4 linked regions of the Homo sapiens genome follow. The main gene of each other region encodes a partner of the protein of the gene in region 2 in a complex. Each region holds a gene or a part of one and is shown on either strand. Other genes may lie near its edges. The genes, in order: KAT2A, KAT14, YEATS2 and DR1.

Region 1 (6,681 bases), on a different chromosome or scaffold from region 2:
CTTCCTGGATTGGTCCCTCCTCTCCCTCCATGGGCCTTTTGGGATCTGGGCGTCTACCTGGCAGACTTGCCCATGGCCCAGAAGCAACTTGCTAGTACTAGTCTGGGGATGGCAGGTACATAGCCCAAGCTAACGCTGCCCCCACCCGACCCTACGCCCCAGTAGATGTTACTAATTGTTTCCCATGGGGGCCTGGACACAGCCTCAGACTCCTTCCCTGCACAACTCTCCAAGAAACCAGACCTTAAGCTTGAAGTGAAACCAATTTCTACTCCTGTTCTGGTCTTTTCTGTACCATTTTCTTCTGTTCGGCCACACCTTTTAAAATCTAGGCCATAACTCCCCTGTTCAAAAAACCCTGACTGACTAATCCTGGCTCTCTAGTGCCCCCTGCCATCAGGTGGGAACAAGAGATGGCAAGGTGGGGTGGAGTCTGAGCCCATTTTGATACTGAGGGCAGTGAGGGGGCTCAGGGTGACAAGGTGCCCTGCCTGGCCACACAGCACAGGATGACATCAGCTCAGACCTGTCTCCCTGTGCCACACAGCGTGGTGAAACTGAGCCTGTTTGATCTCTGTCCTGGATGTGTCCTGTCCTCTTACCTTCAATTGGAGGCTCCCAGAAGACAGGGGCTGTCCCCTCTCTCAGGTCCCCAGTTCCCTAAGAGCAGGGTCTGTCTCTGACCAGCCTCCAGTCCCTCTGCTGCCTGGCCCAGGCTGCACCCTGGAGAACAGAGTTGTGGGACAGACTGTGTCCTCCCTACAGATTCCTGTCCATGCTGGAGGAGGAGATCTATGGGGCAAACTCTCCAATCTGGGAGTCAGGCTTCACCATGCCACCCTCAGAGGGGACACAGCTGGTTCCCCGGCCAGGTATGTGCCATGGTACGCTCTGTAGGGTGTCTGGCCTGCCTGGCTGAGCTAAGCCTCCTGGGTGGAAGAGAGCTCACCTGGGCCGGAGGCCCTGGATCCCACTGAGGGACCTGCCACCGGCTTCAGCCCCCCCAGTCCCTGCCTTCTCTCTCTCTCTCCTCAGCTTCAGCACCCCCGTCCCTGACTCTCTCTCTCCTCAGCTTCAGCCCCCGTCCCTGACTTCTCTCTCTCTCTCCTCAGCTTCAGCCCCCCATCCCTGACGTCTCTCTCTCTCCTCAGCTTCAGTCAGTGCAGCGGTTGTTCCCAGCACCCCCATCTTCAGCCCCAGCATGGGTGGGGGCAGCAACAGCTCCCTGAGTCTGGATTCTGCAGGGGCCGAGCCTATGCCAGGTGGATACTTGACCCCTGACCTCTGACCCTCATTCACTCCTTCCCAAACCTTTTTTACTGATCCTGAGCAACCTTGCCTGCCTCCCCAATAGGCGAGAAGAGGACGCTCCCAGAGAACCTGACCCTGGAGGATGCCAAGCGGCTCCGTGTGATGGGTGACATCCCCATGGAGCTGGTCAATGAGGTCATGCTGACCATCACTGACCCTGCTGCCATGCTGGGGCCTGAGGTGGGCAGCCCGACCTGCTGACCAGTTGGGGGACCCCCACCAACCTGAGACCCCGGCTCACCACCCCTCTTCTGTGCCCAGACGAGCCTGCTTTCGGCCAATGCGGCCCGGGATGAGACAGCCCGCCTGGAGGAGCGCCGCGGCATCATCGAGTTCCATGTCATCGGCAACTCACTGACGCCCAAGGCCAACCGGCGGGTGTTGCTGTGGCTCGTGGGGCTGCAGAATGTCTTTTCCCACCAGCTGCCGCGCATGCCTAAGGAGTATATCGCCCGCCTCGTCTTTGACCCGTGCGTCCCCCAGAGAGCCCCTCCCCCAGGGCAGCACACCCAGTTCCCTTCCTCCTCGGCCTCTTCACTCCTCAAAATTGGGGATCCCCTGCTCCCCACTTCTGAGGTTCATCCTTTGAGCATTCTTACTTCTCACTGCCCAACCCTGACTACAGCTCAGACTTCCAGGGCTCTGGGGACCTGAAGGGGACAGTCAGGGGCTATGACATGCCCCCCTCTCTCTTAGGAAGCACAAGACTCTGGCCTTGATCAAGGATGGGCGGGTCATCGGTGGCATCTGCTTCCGCATGTTTCCCACCCAGGGCTTCACGGAGATTGTCTTCTGTGCTGTCACCTCGAATGAGCAGGTCAAGGTGAGCGCGGCTCCCCGGCCCCAGCCCCAGTCCACGGCCCACTCCTGAGTTTGGGCCAGTTCGGAGCAGCAGGATGTGTGGCATGCAGCAGCCCGTTGCTCTTCTCTTAGTTAGCGGCCCGTTCCTCACATCCCCACAAGGTGGCAGCCGTACTTTGATAACTGTGGATTAGGAAACCACCTGTTGACAGACGGAGCCCAAGCAGCAGCCACACTTTGGTGGACCTGTGGACTTGGGTTTTCTGCATCACAAGAACATTTACATACATGGGGGAATTAATTACTTTACTTTTTATTTTTTATTTATTTTTTTGAAAGAGGGTCTCTCTCACCCAGGCCGCAGTGCAGAGGCATGATCAGGGCTCACTGCAGCCTCAACCTCCCAGGTTCAAGTGATACTCCTGCCTCGGCCTCCCAAGTAGCTGGGACCACAGGCATGCACCACTACGTCTGGCTAACTTTTGTATTTTAGTAGAGACAGGGTTTCACCATGTTGCAGGGTTTCACCCAGGCTGGTCTCTAACTCCTGACCTTAAGTGATTCACCCACCTCGGCCTCCCAAAGTGCTGGGATTACAGGCATGAGCCACCGCGCCCAGCCAAACTAATCATTATTACAGTAGCCCTATGCTGATAGTTTTGGCTTCTGTCCTTTGTTACAACAGACCCACTCGTAGGGTCTCTGGCTCTGTGTGTCGCATACCTCAGATCTGTGTGGTGCCTCATTGGCCCTGACGTGTGGGAGGCATTGCTCCTGCTGCTCAGACCTCTGGTGACTCCCTCTCCCGCTTCTCCCAACTCTGAGGCCCAGGGACTGGGAATCAGTGGCCTGTGTTGGGTTTGGACCCGGCCCTGCCACGGCTGGCAGCCTGACCTTGAACACATTTCCTAACGTAGCTGAGTTTCGGTTTTCTCTTCTGTAAAATAAAGGTGGTAATACTCGCCTCTGGGGTTAATTTGAGAATCGGTCTGTAAAACAGGAAGCACTGCACCTAGCCCAGAGTGAGCTTAGAAAGCCCGCACCCTTCACTTTCTCCCCATAAGCTCCCCTTCCTCTGTCAGCTGCCTTTCTTCCTCTTTGCCTGGATGCTCTCGCTCTCTCTACCTCCTTTCCAATCTACCCGCTCTTCTCTGGTCTCTGAGACCTCTCCAGCACCAGGCCCATCCTCAGCTCCTGGTGAGTCCTGCTTCCCTCCCCCGCAGGGTTATGGGACCCACCTGATGAACCACCTGAAGGAGTATCACATCAAGCACAACATTCTCTACTTCCTCACCTACGCCGACGAGTACGCCATCGGCTACTTCAAAAAGCAGGTGACCCGTAGCCTCGTCCCACACCGGTCCTTTGCCTGGAGGCTGGGGTAATTCTGTCCAGCCCCTCTGTGGATGGAGTAGGAGTCCCTTTGCGTCCCCTACTTCACCTGACACCTGCCAGGAGAGTCTCCATGCCTATCTTCTTTCCTCTGCTGCCATTGCCCCAGGGGAGAATGAGGGCCTGTGGGGCCAGTAGAGCAGGCCGGAGGAACTGGGGGTCAGTAGAGCATCCTGGAGGAACTAGGGGGCCAGTAAAGCAGGCCGGAGGAACTGGGGGGGGCACTAGAGCAGGCTGGAGGAACTGGGGGGCTAGTAGAGCAGGCTGGAGGAACTGGGGGGCCAGTAGAGCAAGCTGGAGGAACTGGGGGCCAAGAGCAGGCTGGAGGAACTGGGGGGCCAGTAGAGGAGGCTGGAGGAACTGGGGGGCCAGTAGAGGAGGCTAGAGGAACTGGGGGGCCAGTAGAGCAGGCTGGAGGAACTGGGGGACTCTTCGGGATGAGTCAGGAGTGGGCAGCTGACCTGGGACCTTTCCAGGGACAGTTTGAACCCTCACAGTGCCCCAGGAGGAGGTTCAGGAGCAGGAGGTGGCAAGTGGCACGTGCTACTCCTCTGGTGCTCCCAGGTGAGGGACGACAGAAGTTGGGAAATACTTATGGATGGACTGGGTCATGACCATCCACCCCCCAGGGTTTCTCCAAGGACATCAAGGTGCCCAAGAGCCGCTACCTGGGCTACATCAAGGACTACGAGGGAGCGACGCTGATGGAGTGTGAGCTGAATCCCCGCATCCCCTACACGGAGCTGTCCCACATCATCAAGAAGCAGAAAGAGGTGGTGTGCACACATGCGCATCTGTGGGATTTTTCATGAATGGGCATGCAGAGGGCGAGCACACGTGTGTAGACCTGTTCTACGTCTACATGCATATATGTGTGTGAGTGAGGAGGGGCAGGCCAGGATCTTGGCTCTTGCTCTGCTCCCTTGGGGAAGTTATGAGGGGAGGTGCTGGATTAGGTGGCGTTGCAGCTGGGTGGGTGCAGCCAGTGGCTCCGACTGTGGCCCTGGGAGGGGTTGTTGTTGGGGCTGGAGTTGGCCCCTCAGTCCCTTCCTTCCCTCAGATCATCAAGAAGCTGATTGAGCGCAAACAGGCCCAGATCCGCAAGGTCTACCCGGGGCTCAGCTGCTTCAAGGAGGGCGTGAGGCAGATCCCTGTGGAGAGCGTTCCTGGCATTCGTAAGCAGGGGTCTCAGTTGCAGGGTAGTGGGGGCACGATGCTTGGGGTGTGGACTGGCATTCTTAGAGACATTCTCCCACTTCCCACTTTGCAGGAGAGACAGGCTGGAAGCCATTGGGGAAGGAGAAGGGGTGAGTGTCAAAGGAGCCGGGTTGGGGGTGGGGCAGAGGGACTTGGAGCCTCAGACTTGGTGTCTCTCGCCCCAGGAAGGAGCTGAAGGACCCCGACCAGCTCTACACAACCCTCAAAAACCTGCTGGCCCAAATCAAGGTGGGGAGACCAGGTTTCCTTTCCAGGGCCCCTGCACCAATGGCTGTGGCCTCTTGATGCAGTGTGGGGTGGGTAGTGGTCTCGGGCTGGCGTGGGCGCAGCAGGGCTGTCCCCAGCCCGGCTCTTCTCTCCAGTCTCACCCCAGTGCCTGGCCCTTCATGGAGCCTGTGAAGAAGTCGGAGGCCCCTGACTACTACGAGGTCATCCGCTTCCCCATTGGTGAGGACCTTCCATTCCATCCCCTTCCCTCCTCTTCTGTCCCCACACCTGCTCCTGCCCTCACTGCGCCCTGCAGCCCCAGGGGGCCCACCCTGGTGGACAGCCCTGCCGTGGTCTTCAGCCTCTTAAAGCTGTGCTCCGTCTCCTGCTGCCCCAGACCTGAAGACCATGACTGAGCGGCTGCGAAGCCGCTACTACGTGACCCGGAAGCTCTTTGTGGCCGACCTGCAGCGGGTCATCGCCAACTGTCGCGAGTACAACCCCCCGGACAGCGAGTACTGCCGCTGTGCCAGCGCCCTGGAGAAGTTCTTCTACTTCAAGCTCAAGGAGGGAGGCCTCATTGACAAGTAGGCCCATCTTTGGGCCGCAGCCCTGACCTGGAATGTCTCCACCTCGGATTCTGATCTGATCCTTAGGGGGTGCCCTGGCCCCACGGACCCGACTCAGCTTGAGACACTCCAGCCAAGGGTCCTCCGGACCCGATCCTGCAGCTCTTTCTGGACCTTCAGGCACCCCCAAGCGTGCAGCTCTGTCCCAGCCTTCACTGTGTGTGAGAGGTCTCCTGGGTTGGGGCCCAGCCCCTCTAGAGTAGCTGGTGGCCAGGGATGAACCTTGCCCAGCCGTGGTGGCCCCCAGGCCTGGTCCCCAAGAGCTTTGGAGGCTTGGATTCCTGGGCCTGGCCCAGGTGGCTGTTTCCCTGAGGACCAGAACTGCTCATTTTAGCTTGAGTGATGGCTTCAGGGGTTGGAAGTTCAGCCCAAACTGAAGGGGGCCATGCCTTGTCCAGCACTGTTCTGTCAGTCTCCCCCAGGGGTGGGGGGTATGGGGACCATTCATTCCCTGGCATTAATCCCTTAGAGGGAATAATAAAGCTTTTTATTTCTCTGTGTGATTGTTTCTTTGGTGTAGTCCCAGCCTTAGCAGGCTCACCTTGGCCCCCAGGGACCTCTTGCAAACTGGAGGCTGCTCTCCCCAGCAAGCCTCAGGCCTGGTCCTGTGCTCCTGGGGTGATGGGTCCTACCTGCCTGCAGCCCCCCACCTCTCCCTCCTCCAGGCTGCTCCTGATCCAGATGCCAGGGCAGCAGGGGTCAGAACCTCCTGCCTTCACCTTAACCTGGGTGGATGTGGTTACAACTGACTGCAGAAGGGCCAGAGCGTAGAGGATCCTGTAGCACTGAAAGAGTGCTTCCCTGTTAGCACACGTGGTTCTTTTTCTTGGGGCAGGGATAGGAGATTCGTAAGTCGGCTCAGCTGGCTCCTCCCCTCAGTTTCAGTTTCCATTTCTGATTTCTGCTCTCTGCGCTGAGCACAGCGGCACCAGGCTGAGCTAAGCAGGGCCGCCTTGGGCAGGCCTACGTGGTGGTGCAGGCGAGACCCAGGCTGGGCAAGGCGCAGGTGTAGCCTGTGTTACTCCCACCCCCCCCCACCCCCACCTTTTGGCCACAGCAGGCTTCTGATGAGTTTTGAGGGTGTCCCCCCCCCCACCTCCCTCAAGTGGGGTGGAGTCCTGGG
Region 2 (7,924 bases):
GATAGTATTTATTTGTTTAAATTTGCAGTATAACTTCTTTTTTCTCAAGAGATATCTAAGTCTTTTTTAGTTTAGGGCATTCATTGAACATTTCTCTTTATTGAACATGATATTACTCATAATAATAAATTAGCAAAAGAAACTAAAGTTGAGTAGTTATTTTAAAATTTAGATATGGGTTGAGCAATCCAAATCTGAAAATCCAAAATCAAAAACACTCCAAAATCTGAAACTTTTTCAGCACTGACATAACGCTCAAAGGAAATGCTCATTTGCAGCATTTCGGATTTTGTATTTCTGGGTTTGGGATACTCAGCCAATAAGTAAAATGCAAATATTCCAAAAGCCGAAAACATCTGAAATCCAAAACATGCTTGTGCCCAAGCATTTCAGATGAGGGATACTCAGCCTGTATTTATTCTTTCTTAGCAGCCTCAAAACCAACTTTAGATCCCATCATTACTGTTGAGGGACTTAGAAAACGAGCAAGTCGGAATCCTGTGGAATCTGCCATGGAATTAAAAGAGAAAAGGTCTCGAACTCAGGAAGCAAAAGACATTAGAAGAGCCCAGAAGGAGGCCGCTGGCTTTCTTGACAGGAGCACATCTTCTACCCCTGTAAAATTCATAAGCCGAGGCCGCAGGCCAGATGTGATTCTGGAAAAAGGCGAAGTGATTGACTTTTCCTCCTTGAGCTCCTCTGACCGCACCCCGCTGACAAGCCCATCTCCTTCTCCTTCTCTGGATTTCTCTGCCCCTGGTACACCTGCCTCTCATTCTGCCACACCTAGCTTGCTTTCAGAAGCAGATCTGATTCCAGATGTGATGCCCCCACAAGCCTTGTTTCATGGTAAGAGTTTGTTTGCTTTGCTCTTTTATTTTGGGTATGGGCCATGGTATAAATGTACAAGTTTTCACCCCGTGGGCTGTGTGCTCTGCATTTCTTCCTTCCTATGTCTTGATGACACTGTTTTGTACTCTGCACAGATGACGATGAGATGGAAGGCGATGGAGTCATAGACCCAGGGATGGAGTACGTCCCACCCCCTGCTGGGTCAGTAGCTTCTGGGCCAGTGGTTGGGGTCAGAAAGAAGGTCAGAGGCCCTGAACAGATAAAGCAGGAGGTAGAGAGTGAGGAGGAAAAACCCGACAGGATGGATATTGACAGTGAAGACACAGATTCAAACACATCTTTGCAAACAAGGGCTAGAGAAAAGAGGAAGCCTCAGCTGGAGAAGGACACAAAGCCGAAAGAGCCCAGGTATACTCCCGTGAGCATCTACGAGGAAAAGCTGCTGCTCAAGAGGCTGGAAGCTTGTCCCGGTGCTGTTGCCATGACTCCGGAAGCTCGGAGACTGAAACGCAAACTGATTGTCAGACAAGCGAAAAGGGATAGGGGATTACCACTTTTTGACTTGGATCAAGTTGTTAATGCTGCTCTTTTGTTAGTTGACGGGATTTATGGAGCCAAAGAAGGAGGAATTTCCAGACTTCCAGCTGGACAAGCCACGTACAGAACCACCTGTCAGGACTTCAGAATCCTTGACCGATACCAGGTGAATGCAAGCACTTGCTGTAAAGCCCTTGGGGGCAGGAGTGGAGGTGGGGCAGGCAGCACTAGGCATTGGACATGGTTATGCTGTGACCTTTTAAATCCTGAGTAATTTGGGAAGAGAAAAGTAAAGTGCAAGGGAAAAAAATACAAAAATCGCTGGGCTTTATTTTTCAGAATTGTTCATTGTAAGTACACCTGAATACATCTGAGTTTTTCTTTTCCTTTAGGCATTCAAACATAACCTATAAGTTTTCTTCATCTGTCTCTCTTGTCTCTCTCTCTCTGAGGATAGATATGCATGGTTTGTGTCGTAGCTTTGACAAATTTGTTGAGGCCATGACGGTGTCTCTGACACTGTGTTGCAGAGGATCTGAAGGTGTGTAGACATCTGCGAAGGACAACATGAAGAAATAGCAGCCAAGGGATCAGTGTGGTATCAGTGTTGCTCAAAGGATGGTCGGTGGAACCCAAATTTTGTGGATGCTTCTGGGAACAATTAATTCCACTTAGAACTACCTGTATATACTCTCCCACTGGGAGGAACAAGAGGCCTTATTCCCTTTATCTTTGCTAGCACTTGACACTAACCAGCCTTTAAGTTTTGCTAATTGGCTGGCTGTAAAGTGAAATCTTGTTTTTTATTTATATTTCTTTGGTTACAGGTGAGGTTAAATTTCCTGGTTGTTTCTTTGTGAATTGCCTGTTTGGAGTCTGCATGTTTTTCTCTCTTCTCTGGAAGCTAGTGGGATCTGCTCTTCATTGCTGGTGTTCTGGTATTATTCAGTGATGTGCCGTATGTAGGGCTTATGTCTTTCCTTGTGCTGGACATGTGGTGTGTGGGCCCTTTCAATTTGAAACTTTCTTTCCTGAGTATGGAAAAGTCTTGATTTCCTATCTTCTATTTTTTCTGTTCTCTCATTTTAGAACTCCCCATTATTTGGATATTGGACCCTGTAGATTAAAAGTTGGCAAACTTTATCTGTAAAGAAATAAGTATTTCTGCCAGATAGTAATTATTTTAGGCTTTGCCGGCCACAAAATCTCATTCGGAACTCTTCAACTCTGCTGTTGTGATTGGAGAGCCGTAGTGAATGAGTGTGGCTGTGTTCCAGTAAAACTTTATCTACTAAAATGGGCAGTGGACTGGATTTAGCCTGGGGGCTATAGTTTACCAAGATCCCTACTCCAGATAGATCCTCTTTTCTTTTTTTTCCTAATTCCCATCTTTCCTGGGAAGCACAGTATTAACTGGCCTGCCTACCAGGAGCCAAGTCGGGAGGGCCCAGGAGCCCATCGTTTAGGAGGTAAACTGACTCTCCCTGTCTTCAGTACAGTACTCCCACCCTTGGCTTCCTGTGTCCAGAATCTCCCTCTTGAGCCTCTCCAGTCTTCTGCCCGTGGAGGGAAAGATCATTTCCTAGATGTGGGCAGTATAATTACTATAGGGGTATAATTGGAGCCTTTAACCTCTTAAAGAGCCTCACAATCCATAGTCATACCCCCCAGGCTCTAAGCCTGATGCCTTAGGTGACTACACTTCCCTGAGGCTGTGTTTTGTAAATCACCCTGCTTAGCTTCACCACTGGCTTAGGTATTGGCTTTCTTTGGTCTGTTAAGTCATTTGCTGCTTGTTCATATGCTTTTGTTAGTCATCTATTCACTTGTTCTTGTTCTTTTTTTTTTTTTTTTTGAGACATGGTCTCTCTCTGTCACGCAGGTTGGAATGTAGTGGCACAACCACAGCTCATTGCAGCCCCGAACTCTCAGGCTCAAGCAATTCTCCCACCTCAGCTTCCCAAGTAGCTGGTACTATAGGCACACACTACCACACTCAGCTAATTTTTTTTTTAATTTTTATTTTTAGTAGAGACAGGGTCCTACTATCTTGCCCAGACTGATCTCAAACTCCTGGGCTCGAGTGATCGCCTCAGCCTCCCAAAGTGCTGGGATTACAGGCATGAGCCATTGCGCCTGGCCAATATTCACCTGTTCTTTGTTCTTATTCTTGTGGGCCTGTCTGTTTACTGCCTATACTTAATTTTTTAAATTGTAAGATGTGTCATACAGATAGAAGGCAGCATAGAAATATGGTATAATTTAGATATTAGTAAAATAAATGCCCATGTATTCATCTCCTGGATAAAGAGTGTTGTAAACACCTTAGAAGTCTCCTGTGTACTTTCTGTTCCCCTCAGAGGAAGCCACTTTGACTTACAGTGTTAATTATTCTTTTGCTTTTTAAATGTGTATGTCTCTAAATGATATACTTTTCGTTTAAAAAAATACTGAGTAGCAAGCATAAATCTAGCTGTGTAAGTAAATTGCCACTATTAGATGAAGTTTCCTGGAGAAGATAAGCTAAATAGTCATTCTGGGTCATTGTTGTGGACTGAATTGTGTCCCCCTTAAGCATATGTTGAAGTCCCAACCCTGGTACCTATGAATGCAGCCTTATCTGGAAATAGGCCCTTTGCAAATATAATTAGCCAAGACCACCAAGGATTGCCGGCAGCACCAGGAGCTAAGAGAAGGGCACAGAACAAATTCTCCCCTAGTGCGTACCCCAGAGAGCATAGCCCTGCCCACACTGTGACTTCTGACATTTGGCCTCTAGAACTGTGAGACAATAAATTCCTGTTGTTTTAAGCCACCCAGTTTGTGGTGCTTTGTTCCTACAGCCCTGGGAAACTAATACTTACAGTGATGTTCTGGCTTCGGCTTCCATGAACCCCTTCTGAGGTAGTCACTGGCCAAGGTCACTAGGGAGTCCTGGGAAACATGAGGCTCACCATAGCGTATGCATCAGCCAGGGCTGTGATGTATACCAGAGATGCGGCAGAAATCTGGGCAGAGGAAGTGGGATCCTCTGTATTTCCTGCCTGAGCTGACAGCTTCCTTCCAGCTTGCAGAAGGTCAAAGCAGTTATTTGTGGAGTGAGCATCATCAGCTGGTCTTTGGGGTGGGCATGGGTGGTGTACAGGAGGCTCACCTGTACATGGTGAAGACAAGCTGAGCGTAGATAAGATTCTGGGCCACGACGCCATAGGTTTAAAAGATGGTCAGTGGCAGCAAGGACTTAAGGATGATAGCCTCAATATGTGTTAGAAATACCAAAATTGTTAGAAATAGATAATCGGTGCTGCGAAGAAAAGTCAGCACAGAGACAAAAGGTATCTCAGCAAGGCCATCTTTTCTTTCTGTAGAAAGGGTGCTCAGTTGCAGATGGAACAAAGGTGAGAGCACACTTGAACACAGGAAAAGCAGACATATTTATCCCTTACGCACTTGGGTCGTCCTTACTGCTGTGTCCTGCATCCACTGGCTGGAGCGGGACCTCACAATCTTAAACTGATACCCGATTTGCTAATAGCCTAAAACTTTCCTAAATAGGTAAGTGCAGGGAAGAACAAAGAAGTTGCTTACAAAAGGTTTAAGGAAGCAATAACATTTCCAAATAAGGAAGGGGCGTAGACTGTGGGCTGGAACGTGCCTGTGAGCATGTCCAACGGTTACAGAGGATAGGGCTTAACAAAGAGTTATTAGCACAAGGCAAGGAGACTTGAAGAAAGTTAGTCTTTAAAAGAAACTGTTATTTCTAACACTTATGATTTATTCTTTAACAAGAAGGAAAACTTTGAAGAGGAAACTTTTTACTTTCTACACTATGTCTGCCCCTTGGGTCACACTTGTTCACCCTTTGTTGTGAAACTCAGCAGGGGTGTTGGGATCTCCCCTCTCTGGAGATTCTTTTGCCCTCCTCTGTATTTGATCTCCTGTTTCCTGTGGCCCATCTTTACCTTGTTATAGGTTTATTCCCTTGTTCTTAATGACTTCCTGAGAAAAGCTGCATGGGAAGTAAAATTTGAGACCAACATACTGAAAAGACCCTCATTAAGTGAGGTTGAACCTGGAATTCCATACACAGCCACATTGTCTAGGTGAGACCTCTGTTGAGGACCACTGCACTTCCTTTAGGTTTTTTCTTTGAATCTAGTCAGAGTCCCTGGGGAATAATCTTCTGGGCTCAGGATGCTGGTTGCCAAGTTGGGGAAGAGGGACCTTAGCATTCAGCTTGTCAGGTACTCACACCTCAGCCCTCCAGCTGGATCCCCTGTTAGTTCTCTAGAGATCAGACCTCCTGGCTTCTGGGGGAGGGCAGCCACCCAGCAACAGGGAGTGGAAGGATCTGGGGATCATACTGCTTTCCACATGGTGTTTGCCTGCTCCTTATTTTATTGTCCCATTTGGTCCCAGTTCCAGAGGAATCTGCTGGCTGCTGCCTGGATTTTAGCGGGTTCTGTAGTATAGATTGGGTTAGTTCTCATTTAGCTTACCCAAAGCCACTTTGGGATTTTGGTGTTAAATCAGTTACTATTTGTCCATCTGTTTACCAGTTACTGTTCTAATTAAGTCAGCTTCTATAGTTTTAGTGGGATTTTGGGAAGTAGTAAAGCTTTATATGCTTGTGTTTTAACCCAGTCTTAACTTGGAATTTTAGTATAAATTTTAATGTATTTACACAGGGAGTGGCTGTAAATGCATTTATTCAATCCATACTCTTGTTTTATATTTATTCTTTGAATGTATTCGTAGCTATAAGTTTCTCAATAAGTGCTGCTTTAGCTGTGATTCTTGACTTTTGAAATGATGTGATTTTATTTCCAATCAGTACTTGGCATTTTGTTATTTTTCTCATTATTTCCTCTTTAATCCAAAGGTTATTTAGTTGTTTTTTGGTTTTCAGATATATGAGAATTTTAAGCTATGTTTTGGTAATTGATGTGATTTCTAATGTTGTATTATGATCAGAGAAAATAGTTTATGTGATGTTCATTCTGTACCATAAAGAAAGTTATACATTCTATTTTTATTCTTTTTATAGGTCCTAACTTAAGATACATTTATTTTTCCTTATTCTTTTTTTAATATCATGTGGTTGTCCCCCCAAACAAAAAAGTACATTTTCATGCACTTATCTCTTTTTTTCTTTTGTATTGCTTATTTAAATGACATAAATCTTTACTAAATTATTCACTCGTCCTATTGTTTCTTTCTAGATTAATTTCTTGCTGGACTGCTTTCTCTAACAGTTCTTTAAAAATATGGGCTTTTTGAGGTTAATTTTGAAAACTTATACGACTAAGAATATCTTCATTTCACTTTTTCATTTAAATGATAGCAGTCATATAAAATTGTTATTTTAGTTTTTTCCATTGATATTTTGAAATTATGACTTCATTATCATCTTACATACAGTGTCACTCCTGAGAACCCCGGTACTGATAAGAAATAGAAATTTTTGACTGGGCTCAGTGGCTCATGCCTGTAATCCCAGCACTTTGGGAGGTCGAGGCAGGCAGATCACTTGAGGCCAGGAATTTGAGACCAGCCTGGACAATATGGTGAAACCCCGTCTCTACTAAAAATAAAAAAATTAGCCAGGCCTGGTGGCGCATGCCTATAATCCCAGCTGCTTGGGAGGCTGAGGCTTGAGAATCACTTGAACCAGAGAGGCAGAGGTTACAGTGAGCTGAGATCATGCCACTGCACTCCAGCGTGGGTGATTGGGTGAGACTCTCTCTCAAAAAAAAAAAATTTTTTTTGTTTCTTATCAATTAAGTGGCCTCCTTGTTTTATTCTCCCATCTCCTAAAACTTTCAGAATTTTCTCTTTGTTTTTTATCTTTAATTAGTGCATGTTAAGTGTCTTTTATTTTCTCTTTTTAAAGCTTTGTTTTCTTTTTTCTATTATTTTATTTTCCAGCACATCCAAAACACAGAAATTGTGTTTGTTCTCATTTGTCTTACTTGACAACTCTGTTCTTTTGGTCAGAGGTATTTTATATGCTTCTTGGCATTTATTCTGCTTGGTGTTCGCTGACCTTCCTGAATGTGTGGTTTGGTGTCTGACATTAAATTGGGGATATTCTCAGTCATTATTGCTTCAAATTTTTCTTCTATTCCTTTCTGTCTTCTGGTATTCCCATTGTGTGTTTATTACACCTTTTGTAGTTTTCCGCAGTTCTCGGATAGTCTGTTTTGTTCTTTTTTTTCATCTTTTTTGTCTTTGCTTTTCAGTTTTGGAAGTTTTTACTGACAGATCCTCAAGTTCAGAGATTCTTTACTCAGCCGTGTCCAGTCTACAAATAAGCCCATCATCAAAGGCAACCTTTATATTGGTTACAGTGTTTTTTATCTCCAGCATTTCTTTTTGATTCATTTTCAGAGTTTTCATCTCTTTAATTGCCCATCTGTTCTTGCATATTGTGTATTTTGTCCATTAAGCCCTTAACATATTAAACATATTATAGGCATATCTTGTTTTATTCACATTGCTGTATTGCACTTCACAGATACTGCATTTTGTACAA
Region 3 (7,924 bases), on a different chromosome or scaffold from region 2:
TTACTTCAGATCTTTTTTCTCCAAATAAAACATTTCTGATAAAGTTGAAGTCCACTTTGTTCTTCCCAGAGGCAACAAGCACTGTCATGGCTTTGATGTGTAGCCTTCCACTCCATGCGCTTATTACATGAATACATAGTCATAGGAAACGTGATGTTGTTTGTGTTTTGAAGGTTTACGTAAAAGATATTCCTACTTACATTTTTCTGCAACTCCCTTTTCGCTTTCTTATTTTTCCAGTCTGTTTACACTAATATATCACTAATATATATAATTCTAGTTCATTTATTTTTAGTATGACCTTTCGTTGTCTGTTTTATGCCACAGTTTGTCCATTCCTCTATCTGTAGACGTTAAGAATGTTGTTGCATGCTGCAGACATTAAGGTTGCTAACAGTTTTTGGTAAAAATAATGCTATGTTGGGCATTGTTGTATATGTTCCCTTGAACGCATGTATGTTTCTCTAGGATATATTCCTAAAAACAATTCCTACTATACGGGGGTATGTGAATTTTCAGTTTTAGCAGATGGGCCAGTGCCTCTCTGGAATGGCTGTCCAAATTTATCTTCCTACCAACAGTGAGCACAAATTCCTATTTTCCCCACAGCCTCTAGTAACTTCTTGGTTTTAAACTCTTTTTCCCCCAATCTGATGGGTGAACAGCACTTCCTATTTTGTCTTTTTTGCCTTAAGAAGGTAGATCATTTGCATTTCTTCCAACCTTGTGGAAGTCTGTTCATCTAGTTTCTGGTGAGAAGTTCTTTTTATGAAATAAGGTGCTGGGAGTGGGAAACACTGCTCCAGTTTGCCATTCATTCAGTGTTTAATTTAACATCCTACTGTTGACTTTGTTTTAAAAACACTCCTGAGTATTTTCTTAAAAGAATTCATTTTACTTTTGGAACTAGATACTTCTAATTTTCATTATTTGGGTACTGGGGTCTTTTTTTTTTTTAATAGTTAAATATTATTCTTGCCTTTTTTTTTTTTTTTTTTTTTTCTTTTCTTAGGGTCTTGCTCTGTCACCCAGGCTGGAGGGCAGTGGTGTGATCACGGCTCAGTGCAGCCTTGAACTCCTAGGCTCAAGGGATCCTCCCCTGCCTCAGCCTCCTGAATAGCTGGGACTACAGATGTGTGCCACTGTACTGGCTAATTTTTTTTTTTTTTTTTTTTTTTTTTTAGACAGAGTCTCACTCTGTCACCCAGGCTGGAGTGCAGTGGCATGATCTTGGCTCACTGCAACCTCCACATCCTAGGTTCAGGGGATTCTCCTACCTCAGCCTCCAGAGTAGCTGGGACTACAGGTGTGTGCCACCATGCCCAGCTAATTTTTGTATTTTTAGTAGAGATTGGATTTCACCATGTTGGCCAGGCTGGTCTCGAACTCCTGACCACAAATGCTCCTCCTGCCTTGGCCTCCCAAAGTGCTGGGATTACAGGCATGAGCCACCACGCCCGGCCAAACTTTTTTCTTTATACTTCTGAATTTCCCAAATTTTCTATTAAAGTAAATTATAAAAAGTAGCTGAGGCAAGACAACAATTGTTAAGCTTCTATTATTGTAATACCCAAGTGTAAGAAATACAGTTGCCGTTCACACCTGTGTAGGTAGCTTTCCTAGATGACTGAATTAGGCTGCATGTATTATGTGCAGGCCTTTGTTTTGCTCTCTGCCAAAACGGTGACTGCTGTTCTAAGAGCTCTCGAAGCACCGTTGGACTCTGCTCTGTTTTGAACAGGTTGTCGGGGTACCAGTTGGGTCTGCTTTACCTTCAACAGTGAAGCAGGCTGTGGCGATCAGTGGTGGCCAGATCCTGGTAGCCAAGGCCAGCTCTTCTGTCTCCAAAGCAGTTGGGCCAAAGCAAGTTGTAACCCAAGGAGTTGCCAAAGCAATTGTGAGTGGAGGTGGAGGAACCATTGTTGCTCAGCCAGTGCAGACCTTAACCAAGGCCCAGGTTACTGCCGCTGGTCCTCAGAAGAGTGGATCCCAGGGTTCAGGTAAAACGGATCATCACTGGGAGCCCTTTCAGCAGAAGCTCTGTCCAAAATTTCCTTTGCTAGTGATTTTATTTGCTATTTGATCTGGTCTAGGAAAGCCTAGTTAGGTTGATGCTGTAAGAAGTGTATTGAAATGTTTGTTCTTTTTTATGGGACATTTTACATAAAGGTCTGTGAGTATTTAGCTTTAAATTTACACACACACACACACACACCCACATACACACACACACACGAACAAATCATTTCTCAGTACTGTGGGGGATTGGTTCCAGGACCCCCTGCTGCAGATAGCAAAATCCACAGATGCTAATCCACAGTCCCCTGTGTAAAATGCTGTACTGTTTACGTATAACCTATGTACATCCTCTGATGTACTTTACTTTATATCATCTCTAGGTTATCTTAATACCTAATAACAATGTAAATAACAATGTAATAACAATGTATATGCTATGTAAATAGTTGTTACACTGTGTTGTTTAAGGAATAATGACAAGAAAAAAGTCTGTACATGTTCAGTACAGATGTACTCATCCTTTTGTCTGCCAAATATATGGATATTTTTTATCTGAGGTAGGTTACATCCATGGATGTGAAATCCACAGATACAGAGGGCCAATGGTACTTGCCAGTTAGGAGCACACATTTGCCCTAACTTTGACTTTAAACAAATGGGGGAAAATATGTAATCCTCCATAGACAGGGTGATTATTTCATTAATCGTCCAAACCACAGTACTTTGGAGAGTAAAAAGAGTCATTATTAATAATTATAGTGGGACAGGTGTAACCTAGAACTGTTCTGGGCAGAACCAGGACGTACGATCATCCTATTATATACAGATATAAAGAGCCTCTGGCAGGCTCTTCTGGTCTATAAATTATTTTTTAATTAGCAAGATATTTAAGAATATCAGTCTTTAAAGCATTGTGCATCTGGGAAACAAACTTTGAATTTATTGCTTGTTAGTGTTCTAAAATAAGAATTTATTGCCTTGTATTTTAATTTTAGAGTGTTGCCCTTAGTTTCAATTTATCTTACAATTTTTTCTCCTTTACCATTTTAGTAATGGCAACGTTGCAGCTACCAGCCACTAATTTGGCCAACTTGGCAAATTTGCCTCCTGGCACTAAACTCTACCTAACTACAAACAGCAAGAACCCTTCAGGAAAAGGAAAACTGCTGCTGATCCCTCAAGGAGCCATCCTGCGAGCTACGAACAATGCTAGTTAGTGAAACCATTGGGTTGAATCATTTGGTTCTTGGTTCTCTATGTGTGTTCATCTTGTCCATCTGAGGGCAGTTCTTACCTGTTTCAGGAAGCATTTCTGTAACTCTGTTGGGTGGTGTAATGGTAGCATTTGCTCAGATGGATTTAACACATACGATAATTTAACTAGAAGTGGGTTTGCTCCTCAGCGTTTGCAATCAGAGATGAATCACTCTGGAGAGAGATGGCTGGTGAGGCTGTTGGGAGAAAGCTGTCTACATGAACCATGAATGAAGTGGTGTCTGAAAATTATCTGGTGATACCTGAGGGAAGATCCATCTACTTATAGAAGCTGGAAGTCTGTTTTTGGGGATAGGTTGGCATAGGATTGGAATCGAGTGTGTCTGTTTGACTTCATTTAGATCAGGGGTCCCCAACCCCTGGGCCGCACAGCAGAAGTTGAGCATGGACGAAGAAGCATTACTGCCTGAGCTCCGCCTCCTGTCAGATCAGCAGTGGCATCAGATTCTCACAGGAGCGCGAACCCTGTTGAGAACTGTGCATGCGAGGGATCTAGGTTGTGTGCTCCTTATGAGAATCTAATGCCTGATGATCTGAGGTGGAACAATTTCTTCCCCAAACCACCCCCCGCCTCCTGTCCCAATTCATGGAAAAGTTGTCTTCCATGAAACTGGTCCCTGGTGCCACAAAGCTTGGGGACAGCTGGTTTGGATGTATTCCTTACTTCTGCTAGGTTTGGAGATGGAAAGAGAAATACAGACTCTACCTAGGTTTGTAAGTCTTAAAGCCCCATGGAAATGAGGCAGTTTATCTGCAGTTAAAGAAACTTTTGCTTTGACATATAGAGAAAAACCGTTTGGGCAGTGTTGAAAAGGATAGGATAAAAGGAAATTATTTCCCTCTGAATCAGAAGTAGAAGGGTACAGCATTCAGGGTCATTGGAAGTTAACCGCCCTTGCCAAAATGCAGTGTGTCAGCTCATCATCCTTGCGTTCATTGACCATGATGTGTCAGTTCCACTCTCACTTGGTGTTTTTTCCTCATACCTAAGCAGTGGTATGTCCAAAAGTTAAATGTGTAAGAAAAGGACAATGTAAATATTTCAGAAGTCATCCAGGGAGCTACTTAGATTCTTGTGATATCCTTGGTGCAAAAATAAACCATTGGGAAGGAAGCTATTCCAATAATCACTGGAATGAAGGTGGAGAAGGAAATTGGAAGTTAGTATTTGTTGAGTGAATATTCATAGTCCAGGTAGTTCAAATGCATTATCTCACCAAAAGAGAAGTAAAAAGACTTCAAGGCTTTGAAGTGGGATTTGAAAGGCAAAGAAGAATGGGGTCCTGGAGTCATTGTAAATGAAGGAAAGTCTTCATTTTTCCTGAGACAGGGAGACAACATCGAGCACTGTAAAGTTACACTAAATTCCAGCAATTCCCTGACATTGAATCAGATGCCCAAAAGTTGGGAAGCACCTAGCTGAGCACATTTAAGTGTTGATTAAAATACTTGGCTAGAGGCTGGGTGCAGTGGCTCACACCTGCAATCCCAGCACTTTGGAGGGCCAAGGCGGGCGGATCATGAGGTCAGGAGATCGAGACCATCCTGTCCAACATGGTGAAACCCCCTCTCTACTAAAAATACAAAATTAGCTGGGCATGGTGGCACACGCCTGTAGTCCCAGCTCCTTGGGAGGCTGAGGCAGGAGAATCGCTTGAACCCGGGAGGCAGAGGTTGCAGTGAGCCAAGATCTTGCCATTGCACTCCAGCCTGGCGACAGAGTGAGACTCCGTCTCAAAAAAATACTTGGCTAGAAAATGTCAGTAGCAAGCCTTCTCTTGATCTCCCACGACCACGTCAAAGTATCTTCATTGTACTCAGAGCCGAAATACAGTCAGTTGTCATGCAGTTGAAAGGAAATAGATTTTGATCTAAAATCTAGGAAGTTCTCCTCACTCTTGTCACAGGGTAGGTAGATTACAGAAAAGACGGAGGAAAATGGGAAAGAAGAAGGAATGGCACTAAAAGGGAAACATCTCTCTGGGCTCATTTGTTTTTTATGCTAAAGCTTTGCTTGATACTTTTTATGATGTTGCTGTCATTCATTGTATTTTTAGATCTCCAGTCTGGCTCAGCTGCCAGTGGTGGGAGTGGTGCCGGAGGAGGAGGAGGAGGAGGAGGAGGAGGCGGCAGTGGCAGCGGTGGAGGCGGCAGCACAGGAGGAGGAGGAGGAACAGCAGGAGGAGGAACTCAAAGTACTGCTGGCCCTGGAGGGATATCTCAGCACCTGACTTACACATCTTACATCCTCAAGCAAACTCCCCAGGTCTGGTTCTCTGTAACTGATATTTTAAATCATTTAGCTATTGGATAACTATGCTTAATTATAATTGATTTACCTTTACGGCTCTGGGATCAGGGTTCAATACTAACACCTTAACCGTGTTATCTATATCTATATCTTGGCCGGGTGTGGTAACTCATGCCTGTAATCCTAGCACTTTGGGAGGCCAAGGTGGGTGGATCGCTTGAGCCCAGGAGTTCGAGACCAACCTGGGCAACATGGCAAAACCCTGTCTCTACTAAAAATACCAAAATTAGCTGGGCGTGGTGGTGCACGTCTACAGTCCCAGCTACTCCGAAGGTTGAGGTGGGAGGATTGCTTGAACCTGGGAGGTTGAGGCTGCAGTGAGCTGAGGTCGCACCACTGCACTCCACCCTGGCTGGGTGACAGAGTGAGACCCTTTCTCAAAAAAAAACTATGTGTTTTTATCTTTTTTGCTTGCTTTGAGAGAAGAGGAAGTAGAGATTGAGAAAGATTTTAGTAACTTATCCAGGATCTTCCTGCCAAGCCAATGGTAGAATTTGGGTTTAAGCCAGGCACGGTGGCTCACGCCTGTAATCCCAGCATTCTGGGAGGCCGAGGCAGGCAGATCACCTGAGGTCAGGAGTTCAAGACCAGCCTGGTCCATGGTGAAACCCTGTCTCTATTAAAAATACAAAAATCAGTCGGGTGTGGTGGTGCATGCCTGTAATCCCAGCTACTTGGAAGGCTGAGGCAGGAGAATCACTTGAACCCGGGAGGCAGAGGTTGCAGTGAGCCAAGATCACTCCATGGTACTCCAGCCTGGGGGAAAAGGGTGAGACTCTGTCTCAAAAAAAAAAAAAAAGGAAAAGAATTTGGGTTTAAACCCAGATCTTCCTGCCTTAAAGATTTCTACTATGCTAATTGCCTCCAAAATCCATGAGGTAATAAACAGTATTAATGTACAGTTGAAAAGTTGCTCATAGAAGGGAGTGATCAAAGAGATGGTATCAAGTTGTAATATTTAGAGTTAAGTTAGATTTGATTAGGAACAGGTTTCCTCCTCGTCTCCTCTTGTCACTGAAGTCTTGGCTCTTTTTGAAGGAAAGTAATAGAATTTTGGTTCCAGATGTTCTTATTGAGAAAGATGATATCAGTCTGAATGATTAAATCCAGTTTTGAGGACTAAGTTGCAAAACATGAGTTTTCAACAGGCTGCTCTGTAACTACAGTGCAAAGTTTGAGAAGTGGGGATAACTAATGGAAGTAACACTTAGAGCACAACTATTCTTTTGAATTATTTTGCCTACATTGCAGAATTAAAGGGGAGAGCGTTGTAGCTTGTAACATGGGACGTTACATGTGATTTAAGGGATCAGAACAGCCCATCTGAATTTAACAAATTACCGATTAGTTCTTTATATTTTTTTCTAACTTAGGGCACATTTTTAGTTGGCCAGCCATCACCCCAGACTTCTGGAAAACAACTCACCACTGGGTCAGTGGTCCAAGGAACACTGGGAGTCAGCACATCTTCTGCACAAGGACAACAAACGCTAAAAGTCATCTCTGGACAGAAAACCACATTGTTTACACAGGTAAATACGCCCATGCACACACCCCAAATATGGGGTGATTATGGCATTTATTTACATATTTACATGTAGTTTCTCTCTTTTCACAAAGAAATTAAGGTTACATAAGAAAATGAACAATAAGGCCAGGAGTGGTCGCTCACGTCTGTAATCCCAGCACTTTGGGAAGCCAAGGTGGGTGGATTGCCTGAGGTCAGGAGTTGGAGACCAGCCTGGCCAACATGGCCAACATAGTGAAACCCCGTCTCTACTAAAAATACAAAAATTAGCCAGGTGCAGTGGTGCGTGCCTATAGTCCCAGCTACTCGGGAGGCTAAGGCAGGAGAATCGCTTGGACCCGGGAGGCGGAGGTTGCAGTGAGCCGAGATCGTGCCATTGCACTCCATCCTGGGCGACAGAGCAAGATTCTGTCTCAAAAAAAAAAAAAAAAAGAAAAAAAAAGAAAAAATGAACAATAAAAAATATAGAAAAACAAAAATGAATCTTGAGGTTTGGGAAAATATAAGTAGAATGAGAAAATTAAGGACCCAGGTGTTATTCTCATATGCAAACACTTAAGATATCTTGCACAGTTAAAAAAATCAAGGTATAAATGTGATAGCAAAGACAAAATGAGAAGCATGGTCAGTTTTAAAGTCACACTATTTGTGAGAAAGAAAAAAACGCATATTTCTTTAGAAGAAACAAAGCTTTCTTGACACTTTGTTGTAAAATTTCTCCAGAGGGGCTTCACGTGGAAGATCCAGAATGGGCCAGTTTCAGCTATAGTATCCAGACAGTGAGTGAGTAG
Region 4 (7,924 bases), on a different chromosome or scaffold from region 2:
GATCTCCAGGACTATAAAAGAATAAATCTGTGTTGTTTTAAGTCACTAAGTTTGTGGTAGTTTGTTACAGTGGCAACAAGAAACTAAAATATTCACAAAAATGATGAATGAAAAAAAGTGTATTATGTATGATTACATTTACATAAAATAAAAAACAGGCAAAACTAATCTATGATTTTAGAAGTCAGGATAGTAACTTTCAGCAAGAAAGAAGACAGTGTTAAGATGGGGAAAGAGGAGGGCTTCTGGGGTACACATAATGCTCTGTGTTTTGATCTGAAGACTAGTATGTGAGTTTGTTTAATTTGTGAAAACCTTTATTTGTGTACTGTTTTGTGTGTGTGTGGTATATGCAGTTTTAAAAACTGATGCCTTTTAAACACTTACTAATCTGATAATCTGCCGAAAAAGAATATATAACATATATTCAAGGGGATGGAAAAATACTTACTGAACAATAATTTTATTTCTCAAGAACGCTGAAGATTTTGTTTCTCTCTTCAAAAGATTTAAAAAATTTTAACTGGCAAAACATAATAGTGACTCTTAAATGCTAAAAAAAAAAAAAAAAAAAAAAAAAAAAGAAAAAACCTAAAAATAAAATATTGCATAAGTAAGCTTTGTTATGCCTCGATCTTAGGACTGTAAATTATAAAAATACAAGTAAAACCACATTTTTTGAAATAACAGTAAACAAAAACAAAAGGCAGGTACTACATACCAAATGACCAAAATGTCTTTTGGGCCTAAGATTCTTGAAAATAGTAAAAATGGTAATAATAGAAATCTCTCTATAGAACATTAAATATAAAAACCATTTATAAAACACATCACAATTTTATTGCTTGAAGAATACAGCATATGAAATCACAAGAATGTCAAAATGAAAAGTCACTAGGCTTCAAACGTATAATACATTATCAGATGCAGTAAAATATTAACCTGAACTCTGCATCAGAAAAAAAAAAAAAGGTGTGGAAAATATCTAAGTTGTTTACTTAAGAAACAGATATACTTAAAATAGAAAGTATAAGGATGTTACAGTACAAATTAGAAAAGCCAACACGTATTAACTTATCGTTCTAGACTAGACTACCTTTGGTACTTAAACTTTTTAAAAAACAATTTCTTCTATCTCATCCAAATGCACTTCATGGGTATGACATCCATGAAGTAACTTCAACTTAAAACATTCAGCAAAATTAACCTTTTCACTTCATGGGGGAAGTATATTTAATAAATGTATAACAATATTTCCCTTTTACTAAAACTGCAAAATATGATCATTAAGAAACCTAACAGTTATAAAACTTTACTTACTTAGCTCTCCAATTAAAATTGGAATCCTGGGAGCCACAATCTATTTTTGGGCTTGGTGAATACATAAGTTTAAAAGATTTGGCAACTGACATAGGAATTTAATTACTTAATACTATCTTAAGTGACTTTTCCTTTCTGTTTCCAAAATATAGACATTATGCCATTTCTTCAACATCCTGGATTCCTATAAACACTACCATACTGTATTTATTAGAACCAAATTAAAGCTTCTCTAACAAGCAGGTAGAAACTATTTATGTTCCATATACGGCTGATAAGTTATAACACAACTTATGTTTCATATAGGGCTGATCAGTTAATTCATATAGGGCTGATCAGTTGTAACATAACTTCTTAAGCAAAACTAATCTTTTTTTTAAAGCTATCACTCAATTATGGAGACAATAATGTCATCTCAAAAGGTAATGTTGGACTCTAGGCCATCTAGTTGGGAAAATGTAAAAGTAATTCTAAAAACAATAAGTAAACTATAACTACAAGTTAAATTAAAAATCCCTCTCTCATAGCAAGCATGCTCATTAACTTTCATTTCTTTCCCCCAGCAAAGGTTTGAATATTCATAAACCTCAGTTAAACCAAGAGAACCAATGTAATTGTTTCAAAAGTACCACCTATATATTTGAATAATATGAGTATGGATGGACTAGGTAAGTAATACTATCAACAATTACTGAATTGGAGTGAAAGAGTAAAAATCATGACAGACTTCCAAACTGGGCAGTCTTTGAAATGTCATAGTGGAGCTCAAAATGAATTATGCTGTAATAAAACTATAGTTTTTACCTCTACACAAAACAGAAACAAAATAAAAAAACATAACCACCAAATTTATACAAATACTATTAAACATACTCCTTCCTAGTTTTTGAATGTCTTGAAGTTTTTCTAAACAAGTATATTGATCTGAGCATATATATTTATTGCCTATATATGTACTCATTTTAAAAGACAAATTCAGATACTACAGAACTGAACTCTTTCACCAACCCAATCCAATGTCTACTGATTCACACAGCACCCCCCCCTTAATAATTTAAAATTCACAAGTTTTAGTTTAGTTAAAAGGGCAGAGGAAATGCAAATGCAGATTTAGAGCTTTGTAGAAATTTCACTGTATTTTTATAAACTTGAAGTTATCTGTAACACTGTTTATTGATCAAACGAAGGACTCGCTGCTATCTAAAATTTCATAAACACCATTAAAAATTCAAAATTGATATTATACTGAACCTTAAATTTTCAATAGTTCAAAGAGACAGTTTTTACATGTATAGCACACAATAGATGAAACTTAATAGCAGACATCCCTAGAATACCAATGACAAGTCCACCAAGATGCATACAAAATTACAGATAAGCATTTCTTTCACTGTTTTTGTTGTGCAGGGAAAAACATTTATAGAAGAAATAGAAACTCAGCTGGTGAATTTCAGATATCATCATCATCTTCTTCATCCTGAGAAGATCCCGCCTGATTAGATGCACTGGCTGAGGCAGCAGCAAGCTGGGCTTGTTGGGCAGCTTGCTGCATTTGAAGCCATTCCTGTTGGGCCAATTCTGCTTGTTGCTGTCTAGCCTAAACACCCAAAACATAAAAAAAAATAACAATTTTTTACAAACCCACAATATATACACTTTGGTTAAATGTAGATTAGGCCAATTTCAGACAGTTTATTATCATACTTGGATACTGTCCAAGTACTATGTAATTGTCACACATCTGGAGAACATAAACTCTATAGGTAAATATAATTAGAGATTGCTTTTTTCTAACTACACAGGTCTAAGAAATTTCTCAAACTTGGATCTCTTATAAATGGCCCTGTTTTATTTCACGTAATTTATGACCTTTGATTCAACTGAAGAAGTTGAAAAAGTGGAACCAATATTGTGAAAAACCCACAATATTCCCTCTGGCTCTTTCCCTCTTCTTTTCCTTTCATTTCACTTGACTCTTCTGTACCCTCATATTACAACTTTGATACAAACATTTTTCAATCTAAAATTTATTTATATGGTTTAAAAGTTCTCTAGTATAGTACCTCTACCTCATAGGAAAGAAGTACTGTACATGTATGCAGTAGCTACCCCATTATTTCTTTCTGAGTTTCTATTACAATTCCCTAACCTACTATATGCCTATCTCTCTGTGTCCCTCATTCCCTCTCTGTAAGTACACACATTTGCATATACACACATACAAATATACATATCCTTCCCGTATACACACTAGTAAAAAGATACTACTTAAAATCCATTCATCTGATATATCCTCTATTAAAAACAACCACAGGATTTAAGAAACCAGGATGCATACATTATTAATTACCTATGAAACAGCTAAGGCTCCTTCACAATTTAATTTCATCTGTTTGCAGAAAAACCACACCAAGAAGGGAAAAAATGAACCTGTTCTTAAAAAGGTCTTACAATTTCCCATTAGACTCTGCCAAAACAATCCTTTTCTCCTTCTCTGTCTGTTCTTGGAATTGTTCTTTAAGTCCAACTCAGACCCTCCCCTTTATGCATAGCTAATTCCTAGTCATCATCTGAAATGCAAATCAGCTAGTCTTTCTTGACCTTTCCAAGCCATATTTTATGCTCTATTTAATATACCATAATTCCCTATGCATTCCCATATCCATCCACTTTGTTCTAGAATTATCTAAGTTTATATCCTTTTTTTCCACCACACTTGAGAATAGAGATTGTTTCCATATTCTTTGTTGCATTCCTAACATAAAGGCCCTCAGTATTTTCTGAATGAACATGCTACAGGAAAACAGTGATGCCCAGCATAACCAGTAACATTTAAGATTTTACCATGTACAATCCTCACTCTTCTGAATAATCTGTCATGACTTTATTATCCAAACATTTCTAGATATAAATTCTAATCAGGTCACTATTTCATTTTTTTAAAAAAAATCATTTGTTATCAATCAAATCCAAATTTCCTAGCCTAGAGTTCAAGGTCTTCCAAATTAGTGTCTACCCCAACCTCTCTATAGTCTTTTTTTGTAACATGTACTTTGTGCTTCAAAAAAGCCTAGAACACAAAATGTTTCCCAAATATACACCATACTTCCTCATCTTTGCTACCTTTACTCATGCTGACACTCATCCTATGTGAAATTTCCTGCCACTTACTGAAATTCTACCCTTCCTTCAAGTCAAACTGAAATACTATTTTCTCCTCCTGGCATCAGTCAGTGTATAATCAAGAGATAGATGTCACATGAGTTACTGGAATGGAAAAAATTTAATACGAAGAATTGTTAAACAAGTATAAAGTTGTTATTAGGGAGCTGAAAAGGCAGGAAGAGAACATGAAGATGTCATGAAAGTAGCAGCTACAGGAAGCAGCCACCAACCCTAAAACTGAGGGAATAAAGGAAAATGCTGGAATTTTTAAAATTTAGAAGCTTAAGAAACCACTTCATGGAACTGAAACTCAGGCCTCGGAAGAATGGGCATAGATAAGCTAGTACTAATATATCTGCGCTTGGAGGAGGGCCCCAAGGGTTGGGATCCACACTGCCAGAGTGGGGGGATGGGGTGCGGGTTCAGGCTGGTGGTGTATTAGAGAAAATGCAAACCGCGTTCAGTCTCTGCTACAGGAAAACTGATGCAACCAGGGTGAAGAAGTGTTGCTGGGTTGTTCAAAGGAACTGAAAGACAAGAGAAAGTAAGAGAAAACCCTTTCTCTTCCTCCATCCATGCAATCTCCCACGATAGCCCCATATGGCAACAGAGTCTAATGGAGAGTCAGCTAGCAAAGAAACATGTGGCTTGCAGAGTACTAGGTCCAGTCACAAAGCAGAGCATAGAAAGGTGGGTCTGGAGCTAAGATAATTGCTTACTAGTTGGCATACTCCTGTACCCCTAAAATTTGATGTAATGTTTCCATACTTGGGATTTCTTTCTCTTTCCTTCTTCCCTCTTTCTTTCTATTTTTGTAGAGAGAGGGTCTCACTATATTGCCCAGGTTGGTCTCAAACTCCTGGGCTCAAGTGATTCTCCCACCTGGGCCTCCTAAAGTGCTATGATTACAGGTGTGAGCCACTATGCCCAGCCAGAATCTCTTTCTCATAAGTGGTCAGCCTCATATTATAGTTATCTTCCTCATCCAAGTAGTCAGTCTCATAATGATATATTCTTCATTTTTTTTTATATCTATAGTACCACATATGTCTTACATACAGTAGGGACATGTTAATTGAATTCTGACTTGAAATTTGTTGACTGAAGGGCAGGAGTAGGGTGGTGCTGGTGTAGGTGGCAGTAGTGAAGTGGAAGAAGAAAAGCTATTACCTTGGGGGAAAGCTATCCAAGTAACCATAGTATCAGAGACTAATAAAGGAAGAGGTCTACATTAAATGTTATTTTTAAAAAAACAGATGAGTAAGAATTGAAAGGAAAAAAAATTACTGAATTTGGTGATTAAATGCCTCTGTGGTAGGACAGAAGTTAAATTTGAGGAATAAGTGATTGTACATTTTCAAAAAATGGTAGCACTGATCATTATTTATTTATTTATTTATTTATTTTAGAGATGGGGTCTTGCTATGTTGTCCAGACTAAAGTGCAGTGGCTATTTACAGGCATAGTTGTTATGCACTGCAACCTTGAACTCCTAGCCTCAAGGGATTGTCCTGCCTCCATCTCCCGAGTAACTGGGACTACAGGAAGGTGCCACCTTGCTTGGTGGGTAACACAGATCATTATAGCAAAAGATGAAAGGGTTTGGGGGATACAAGGAAATGCAGAAGACCCGTATATGGTTAAAGGCAAAGAGGAAGAAATAAGTAAGGAAAAGACTATAGATATTAGAAAAAACAAGGATAAGACAACTTTTACAGTAAACAAAAACTTCATTTTGCTTAGGAAATTAGAAACCATCCATTCTCCCTAATAATGACTGTCATCCATTTTTGTAAAGAAATAGGAAAAATAGTTGATTCTAACACAATAGCATATTTACTTTTACGGCAGGAATATCCAGAGTTCAAAACCAACTAACAGAGCTTCGCTAAAAACATTTTAAGGCCGGGCGCGGTGGCTCATGCCTGTAATCCCAGCACTGTGGGAGGCCAAGGTGGGCGGATCGCCTGAGGTTGGGAGTTTGAGACTAGCCTGGCCAGCAGGATGCAACCCTGTTTCTACTAAAAATACAAAAATTAGCCAGGCATGGTGGTGCATGCCTGTAATCCCAGCTACTTGGGAAGCTGAGGCAGGAGAATCGCTTGAACCCGGGAGGCGGAGGTTGCAATGAGCCGAGATAGCACCACTGCACTCCAGCCTGGGCAACAGAGCAAGACTCCATCTCAAAAAAAAAAAAAAAATTGTAAGAGTTCATAAGAAAATTGCAGGGCAAATCAAATACATAAATTCAACCAACATAAGCATACCTATATTTTGTGGTCTAATCAACTACAAGTTGGTATAATTTTGTGACATGGAAAAAATTCAAATAATTTCAAGTCTCTACAAAGGTTTTACTGCAAAGGTGCTTGATTTGGTAGTCTATTCAATGGTCTGCAAAGCTGTGTACTAGTTACATTTCAAATTTAATTGACTTTTAGCTACCACGGCCCTGTATCAGCGCTGATACTTTTCTCTGAACATAAAAACATTTCTATGCCTTTAAAACTAACTGTTGAGCTGGGCTCACTAGTGCACATCTATAGTCCCAGCTACTCATGAGGCTGAAGCAGGAGGATCCCTTGAGCCCAGGAGTTCTAGGCTGAAGTGTGCCTGATCGAGCCTGTCAATAGCCACTGTGCTCCAGCCTGGGCAACATGGTGAGATCCTGTCTCTTTAAAAAAAAAAAAAAGTTGATTGATAAAATTTTATTTGTATTCATTTCCACAAATTGAACATTTTTCAGTGATATTTACTGTAATATATTTTTTTCTCTCTTGCCCCCTACTCAATCCATCCCAAGTATTTTTCTTCTAAAATTGGGGTGTGAAAGACAGGTAAGCAGGCATGTATTTCCTAATTCACTTTTCTTTTGGAGGTTTTCATTATGTTTTAAGATTCTCACTCCCACATATTAAAATGACTCATTTATAATTTAAAGTTAACTTTAATCTTGATGTATTAAAGGTTCCCTCCTTCCAAATATTTGCTGCTAGCTTCAAATGAGGCTGTCATTGTGTTAATATTTAAAGTCTAAAAAATGAAACAAAATGAAAGTGATAAAAAAGATATATTTACTTATCCACTCTTTCATATTTAGAACTTCAGTGCTCTAGGGAAGAAGTACTAGGCAACTGCTATAATATTACCTCTCCGCTGGTCATCCTCACAATAGTAAAGAAATACTAGAGATCTTCATACATAAGTCAGGGTAAGAAACAAGGGAGACAAAAAAGAGGAATAAAAAAACAGATAATAGGGATAGAAAGGTGAAGACAGATATAGCAGGCAGTCAATTATTTCTTTATATTTTGCCCTGGCAAGGATAATACATATTCTATTTAAAAGCCCCATAATAAGTTTAAGCATATAAAATGGAGGCTAGAGCATCAGCATGGTATGTTAGAAACAGTACAGGCTTTTGGGTCAAAATACCTAA

Evidence for each region.
Region 1: KAT14 (region 2) and KAT2A share a complex: the UniProt entries of both Homo sapiens proteins name them as parts of the ADA2A-containing complex.
Region 3: KAT14 (region 2) and YEATS2 share a complex: the UniProt entries of both Homo sapiens proteins name them as parts of the ADA2A-containing complex.
Region 4: KAT14 (region 2) and DR1 share a complex: the UniProt entries of both Homo sapiens proteins name them as parts of the ADA2A-containing complex.

What each region holds. Positions count from the first base shown.
Region 1 is NC_000017.11:42,112,488-42,119,168, reverse strand, and holds the end of KAT2A (histone acetyltransferase KAT2A), read left to right. Parts: exon of another isoform or gene 1-115; intron 116-765; coding exon 766-872; intron 873-1,151; coding exon 1,152-1,262; intron 1,263-1,354; coding exon 1,355-1,491; intron 1,492-1,572; coding exon 1,573-1,781; intron 1,782-2,007; coding exon 2,008-2,134; intron 2,135-3,335; coding exon 3,336-3,446; intron 3,447-4,133; coding exon 4,134-4,277; coding exon of another isoform or gene 4,278-4,280; intron 4,281-4,564; coding exon 4,565-4,679; intron 4,680-4,774; coding exon 4,775-4,811; intron 4,812-4,886; coding exon 4,887-4,950; intron 4,951-5,084; coding exon 5,085-5,169; intron 5,170-5,326; coding exon 5,327-5,520; 3' UTR 5,521-6,058; downstream 6,059-6,681. UniProt on the Homo sapiens protein: Protein lysine acyltransferase that can act as a acetyltransferase, glutaryltransferase, succinyltransferase or malonyltransferase, depending on the context.
Region 2 is NC_000020.11:18,161,391-18,169,314, forward strand, and holds part of KAT14 (cysteine-rich protein 2-binding protein), read left to right. Parts: intron 1-429; coding exon of another isoform or gene 430-432; coding exon 433-849; intron 850-986; coding exon 987-1,555; intron 1,556-7,924. UniProt on the Homo sapiens protein: Component of the ATAC complex, a complex with histone acetyltransferase activity on histones H3 and H4. May function as a scaffold for the ATAC complex to promote ATAC complex stability. Has also weak histone acetyltransferase activity toward histone H4.
Region 3 is NC_000003.12:183,770,564-183,778,487, forward strand, and holds part of YEATS2 (YEATS domain-containing protein 2), read left to right. Parts: intron 1-1,741; coding exon 1,742-2,000; intron 2,001-3,069; coding exon 3,070-3,231; intron 3,232-5,351; coding exon 5,352-5,560; intron 5,561-6,978; coding exon 6,979-7,137; intron 7,138-7,924. UniProt on the Homo sapiens protein: Chromatin reader component of the ATAC complex, a complex with histone acetyltransferase activity on histones H3 and H4. YEATS2 specifically recognizes and binds histone H3 crotonylated at 'Lys-27' (H3K27cr).
Region 4 is NC_000001.11:93,355,486-93,363,409, reverse strand, and holds part of DR1 (protein Dr1), read right to left. Parts: intron 2,918-7,924; coding exon 2,771-2,917; 3' UTR 1-2,770. UniProt on the Homo sapiens protein: The association of the DR1/DRAP1 heterodimer with TBP results in a functional repression of both activated and basal transcription of class II genes.